Linked DNA regions of Homo sapiens: region 1 is linked to region 2. The links come from fine-mapping of genetic effects on gene expression. Tissue or cell type: whole blood. Region 2 holds a variant in brackets; the other region holds the start of a gene. All regions are shown on one strand. Distances are from middle to middle.

Region 1 (2,909 bases), 570 kb before region 2:
TAATTATAATTAGGTTCAGGACTATAACTTCTGAGAAACGTCTATTTACATAGCAAATGAACAAATATTGTGCCTGTTACATGCCAATAGAACTTTAAGCTAGAAGTATTATGTTCATGTCCTTTTTGTTTTTTAATTCATGACCACCAGTAAATCCCTGGACATTCCCACCCACCACCTGGTGGTGGCATTTGCTAAAGGGAATAATTGCCACCTCCCTCAGAGGGTTGCAGTGAAAATTAAAAGAGATAATAGATGTGAAAGTGCTTTATAATCTTTCAAGTGCCAAACACACATAAGGGATTATTATAGTAGGAAATGGTGTCTTCCAAAGAGTAATCATTTAGACAATGTTATAAACGTAATAAATTATTGGTTTCCATATTCAAACCATGACAAGTTCTTGTAGCCACGATGAGACGGAAAACTAATAATTTAGTATTTTTAGTTGATGTGTTTTTTTGTTTTGTTTGTTTTGTTTTGTTTTTGGGGTTTTTGTTTTGTTTTGTTTTGCTTTTGAGACAGGGTCTTGCTCTGTCACCCAGGCTTGAATGTAGTGGCATGATCTCGGCTCACTGCGACCTCCGCCTCCCGGGTTCAAGCGATTCTCCTGCCTTAGCGTCCCGAGTAGCTGGGATTACAGGCCCGCGCCACCACTCCCGGCTAATTTTTTGTATTTTTAGTAGAAACGGGGTTTCACCATGTTGCCCAGGCTGCTCTCCAACTCCTGACCTCAAGTGATCCGCCTGCCTCGGCCTCCCAAAGTGCTGGGATTATAAACGTGAGCCACTGTGCCCGGCCGCTGATGTGGAAATATTAATTTCACATCCCATAGAGGAATATACAGTGTTTTTGATATTTTAAAGTCGTTTTAACAGTGAGCTGTCTAGAAATTCAACCATTGTCTGCAGATTTTCTTACGATTCTGAGCATCACCCAGTGCGCTAATGGAAGGCTGAGGCTACCCCTTCGCTCTTCTCATTTTTAAGAAACTTCCAGCTATCCTTCCCTCTCCTAGGAAAGCTAACGGAATGCAGGAGATAAAATGGTTTCAGATTACATCCAGCGTGATAAACTGTGTCCTTGTCTTAATCTCGTCCAATTCCCAAAACATTTCCAGCTTGCTGTGAGGAGTTACATTCAGTGGTACAGAATGAGCCAGGCAGGCGACGGCGACTTGTAGGTTCCCCATCCCTTTTCTGAGATGCCGCGGTCAGCTCTAGAGACCTCAGGGATAGCAACAGAGCTGGAGATGGGTTAGGGGAGGATGGTGAGGACTACAAAGGTCTCCCCACCTCCCGGGGGCCGCGGAGGCGGGGCTGGATGAAGGTCGACGTGCCTCCTCCGGGCGGGGCGCTGCCAGGCTCTCAGCCTCTCTGTGGAAGGGCAGCCTGCGCCTGGGTACCGAGGCTGCTGCGCGGCGGACAGCGGGCGCGATGTATCTCCGCAGGGCGGTCTCCAAGACTCTGGCGCTGCCGCTGAGGGCGCCCCCCAACCCCGCGCCGCTCGGAAAGGACGGTGAGTAAGGAGGTCTAGCCCGGAGAGGAGGACGGGCGCCTCGGGTGCAGATTTCGCCCGCGCCAGGGAACCGGCCGGCACCCAGTTGGCCAAACCCGACCCAGAGCAGCAGAAGCCTGGATTGGAGGTCGAGGAGACTGGGGGAGACTCCCGGGAAGACGTCCCGAAGCTCCTGCAGACTTTGGAAGTAGGGAACTTTTCCAGGGTGCCTCAGAGTCCAGATTATCTGGGTTCGCATCCTGATCTTGGACAAATGGCTTAACCTGTTTCCTCATCTATAAAATGAGGGCGATGATGGTTTTCCTTTTTAATGAGTTAATGTATGGTTAAAAGCACTTAAAAACGTGCCTGGCTGACAAAGTCGCAGCTTACCACTTTTATTGTTAGAGGCACCATTCGCTCTCCAATCTCCTGAGGAAGCAGAGGAACGGTGGGAAGGTGGACGCCGATCAGCGAGCGGGCCCGGCAAGCGCTGGGAGGCAGTGAGGCAGGGCCCGCTCAGTGGACGCTGGGCGAATGTTCGTGGGGTAAATAAACCTAACCCTTGGCAGGGTCTCAGCAGCCTGAACCCCGCGAGCGCCTGGCTCTGAGATCCACAACCCCCAAAAAGGAAGCGGCCTTCGGGACACTTTCCTTTGAGGTTGCACGTCGTCCTGCAACTGCTTGGCTCTGTAGTCCAAATATCGACACCTTTGGTTCTGAGGATACGCGAGAAAAAGCAGAATACTCAGCAATTAACTAAAGGGGGAGTTGCAGTGTGAACTGGAGGCTTATTAAATAAAAACGGACATATAGGAAAGCGCTTCGTATAGTGCTGGGAACATAGTAGGTGCTTAATAGGTGTGAGCAAGGAAGATTGTTTTTCTTCTGGGACCAGGCTTGCGCTCCAGGGCGGTTCTGCCCCAGCCGCTTTTCCCTAGTCCCCATCCGTCACCCCTCTCTCTTCCACTCACGACTGGGGGACGGCTCTTAGACAATATCGTGAAGGGTTCTTAATGCTCTCTTCACTTAGCCTCACTTTCTGAGCCTTCCGAGATAATTTTACCCCAGAGGGTGGATTCCAGCAGGAGAGAAAGATGTGCGCGGAGAATTCCATGGGCCGATTTTTTTTTCACGTTGATTAGGCCTCTGTTGGTGGTGGTGGGAGGGAAGGACGGAGGTCTAACTAACTCGCTTTATTTTTCTTGTAAAATGCTGGTGGAAGGAAGTTATCCCTCAAGTATCAGAAATAAGACATCTTCGTTTTCCTAGATCTTTATTGCCTTTATTTTTCTAGATCTTTATACCAAATGATATAGAGCTTTTAAATATATATATACACTGATGAAGTAGGGAGAAGCCATTTATTTTAAACTTCGGAAGATAACGGGACTGTTCTGTTGAGAACGGGG
Region 2 (2,909 bases):
AGTTACTCCACTGTACAGCCAGGGTGAGAACCCCTAATTAATGAAACATGCTTTGGGAAGAGCCCACTGAGATAATTTAGGTCAGTGTTTTCAAACTTGTGAGATGATAAGTATCATCCAAGTGCTCATTAAAAATTTATTTCCTGATGACTTGAGCCCAGGAGTTTGAGATCAGCCTGGGAAGCATGGCAAAACCCTGTCTCTACAAAAATTACCAAAAATTAGCTGGGCATGGTGGCATGTGCCTGCAGTCCCAGCTACCCGGGAGACTGAGGTGGAAGGACCACCTGAGCCCAGGAGGTTGAGGTTGTAGTGAGCTGAGATCATACCACTGCACTCCAGCCTTTCCTCACTCTTGGAGATTCTGTTTCAATCAGTGAGGTAGGCTCCAGAAATACGCATGTTCATCAAGTTCCTTGAGTGATGCTGATGCTAGTCTGAGGAATAATCTGATATTCTTCAGTCTTCAATGTCAGGGCCTTAAAGACAAAGGGAGCATGGCTGGTTGGTGAGAACTGACCAACACTGGAGCATGGTAATCTCGCTTTTAGTTCCTGTGAACTCTATTTTTAGTCGTTTGTAGGTCAACAGACCTCTAAGTATTATTATTATTATTATTTACAAATGAGTGTATCCATTCATTAAGGCTTTCTTCTTTAGTTGCAAACAAGTTTTGGAAATAAAATAGATGGCTGGTCTTGAATACTGAAAGACAAATACTGGGGAGAGAGAGAGGGAGGGAAAGAGAGAGAGAGAGATCTCAAATCACAATAAGTAGAGAAAACCTGGATTGTACTAAAAAGATCTGACTTAAGATAGAGCCTTTCATACCGCCCTAAGTCAGAAACTATGCTTGGTTTCCTGTGGACTCTGTGGCTTATGGATCTGCTGAGTCTAGAGGTGAACTCCAAATTGGGCAGGATCTTGAGGCAGTTATTATTTCATTGATGTAAAATATTGCATTAATCCTGTTTATACTTTTTATCTGATTTCCTTCTAGACTTTTAAAGCCCAATTCAGCAATTATTTTAAGGAGAGGTCAAACAAGCAGGCTGAAGCTACAAAAGATTATTGCTGTTTTGGTTAAAGCAGCTAGGAGCTGTTATCAGCTAAGTGGTAGGTTTGACTCTAAGTGAAGTGAAAAGTCAGAAAACATTTATTATCTGGGCAACTCTCTTTAAGAAAAAATCAGCTATCTTCTTGTTGTGTGGGGATCAAGAACTTGCTTACCCTGCCTGGTCTGACTGAAAAAAAGATCTCCAAATGGGTCTTCTAGAATAGAGAGTTCTGATAAATGTTGGTTCAGCCATTGCTCAACACATTTCCCTGTGCCTGACTTTTTGCTAGGCAATAGTATGTTAACAATGAAAGTCTTGGTTACCCGCTAGGAGATTAAGTGTTGCAGTGTCTCCCAGTGTCTCAGAGGCTCCTATTGTTTATGGCTCTACCCCAAATCTCTGCTAAGTGTGTGTATTAGTCTGTTTTCACACTACTATAAAGAACTACCTGAGAATGGGTAATTTATAAAGAAAAGAGGTTTAATTGACTCAGTTCCACATAGCTGGCGAG[G/T]CCTCAGGAAACTTACAATCATGGTGGAAGGGGAAACAGGCACATCTTACATGGTGGTAGGTGGCAGGTAGAGAGGGAGGGGGAGAGTGAAACCACCACTTATAAAACCATCAGATCTCATGAGAACTCACTCACTATCACAAGAAACAAGAACAGCATGGAGGAAACCGCCCCCATGATCCAATCACATCCCACCAGGTCCCTCCCCTGACACGTGGGGATTACAATTCAGATTACAATTCGAGATAAATTCAGGTGGGGACACAGCCAAACCATATCAGTGAGCACAGCTGTGTTCTGTACCAAAACCCCACCTTTCTTGTGTAAAGCTGATTAGACCTGAGTCAAGGCAGCCATTCTTAGGCTGGCCAGGAAACAAGACACAAGTGGTGCAGCACCACGAGATCAGAGAGACCAAGCAAACTCATCCTTCAGGAACTTGGAATCGGGAAGCTGAGACGTCGTACCTGTTAGCACCAGAGGCAAAAGATAAAAGGTGACCTCGAGAGCTGGGTAATGTAATGGAGGCTGGGATAGCCTGTGGATTAAGCAGAAGTAGGGAAATCCGGCAGAGAGAGAGAGAGGGAGAGAGAGGGAAGGATGGAGTGATGAGCAGGCAGGCACAATGATGCTGTGACCTTAGGTCTCTGAGGGGGGAGATGGAAAGAAGGGCCTTCATTTCTGATGGCTTTTATGTTCCTGCTCCTATGAAGCTCATTTTCTCATGTGTCTGTGAGGCCCTCTGCATCCTTACAATAAATCTCTCTCTGCTTGGTCTGGCTTGCAGGCGTCTCTACTCTTTGCAGAGAAAGTAGAATACCAAGCAGAAAACAGGCAGTTACTAAGTTGTGTTAAGTGCTGTGATGGGGAAGGTACCGGGGGCTACAGGAGGATAAGGGGGACATCTAGTCAGGATTGGGGCAGGCAGAGACGGATTCCTGGAGGAGATAATATCTAAGATGGCGAGTGAAGGACAGGGAAGAGTTAGCTGGCCTAAGGGAACTGGAAAATAATTAGGGAAGAGCATAGGCAAAGGTCTAGTGATGAGAGGAAGCAGGATGTTCTCAAGGAAACCTGAGAAGTTCAGAATGCTGGCAGAGACAATGAGAGTTTCAATTGATGAGACTGGAGAGAGAGAGAGAGAGACAATGAAGGGCCTTGTGAATCTTGTTAAGGACTTGGAAATTTATCTCAGGAGAGAGGGGGAAATATAGAAAGACATTAAAAGGAGGACTTTAATGTGATTTGCTTTTAAGAAGGATCACCTTGGCTGCAGTAAAGAGAGACTAGGTTGGAAGCAGGAAGACCAGTTGGGAGGACATTGCAGCTAGCTGGGTGAG

Evidence for each region. PIP is the estimated chance that this variant, and not a neighbour inherited with it, causes the effect. A credible set is the group of variants that fine-mapping cannot tell apart.
Region 1: it holds the start of MGARP, and the variant in region 2 is the best candidate, but not a certain one, in a credible set for the expression of MGARP in whole blood (TOPMed, PIP 0.89).

What each region holds. Positions count from the first base shown.
Region 1 is chr4:139,278,686-139,281,594 of GRCh38, reverse strand. MGARP (mitochondria localized glutamic acid rich protein) reads left to right here and starts at 1,370. Exons shown (of 4, transcript NM_032623.4): 1 at 1,370-1,518. The coding sequence starts at 1,437. RefSeq lists an enhancer at 1,406-1,615.
Region 2 is chr4:138,709,451-138,712,359 of GRCh38, reverse strand. No RefSeq gene overlaps it. Among named protein-coding and RNA genes, the nearest start is that of NOCT, 300 kb to the left of the region's middle. The variant G/T (reference allele first, on the strand shown) is at 1,570.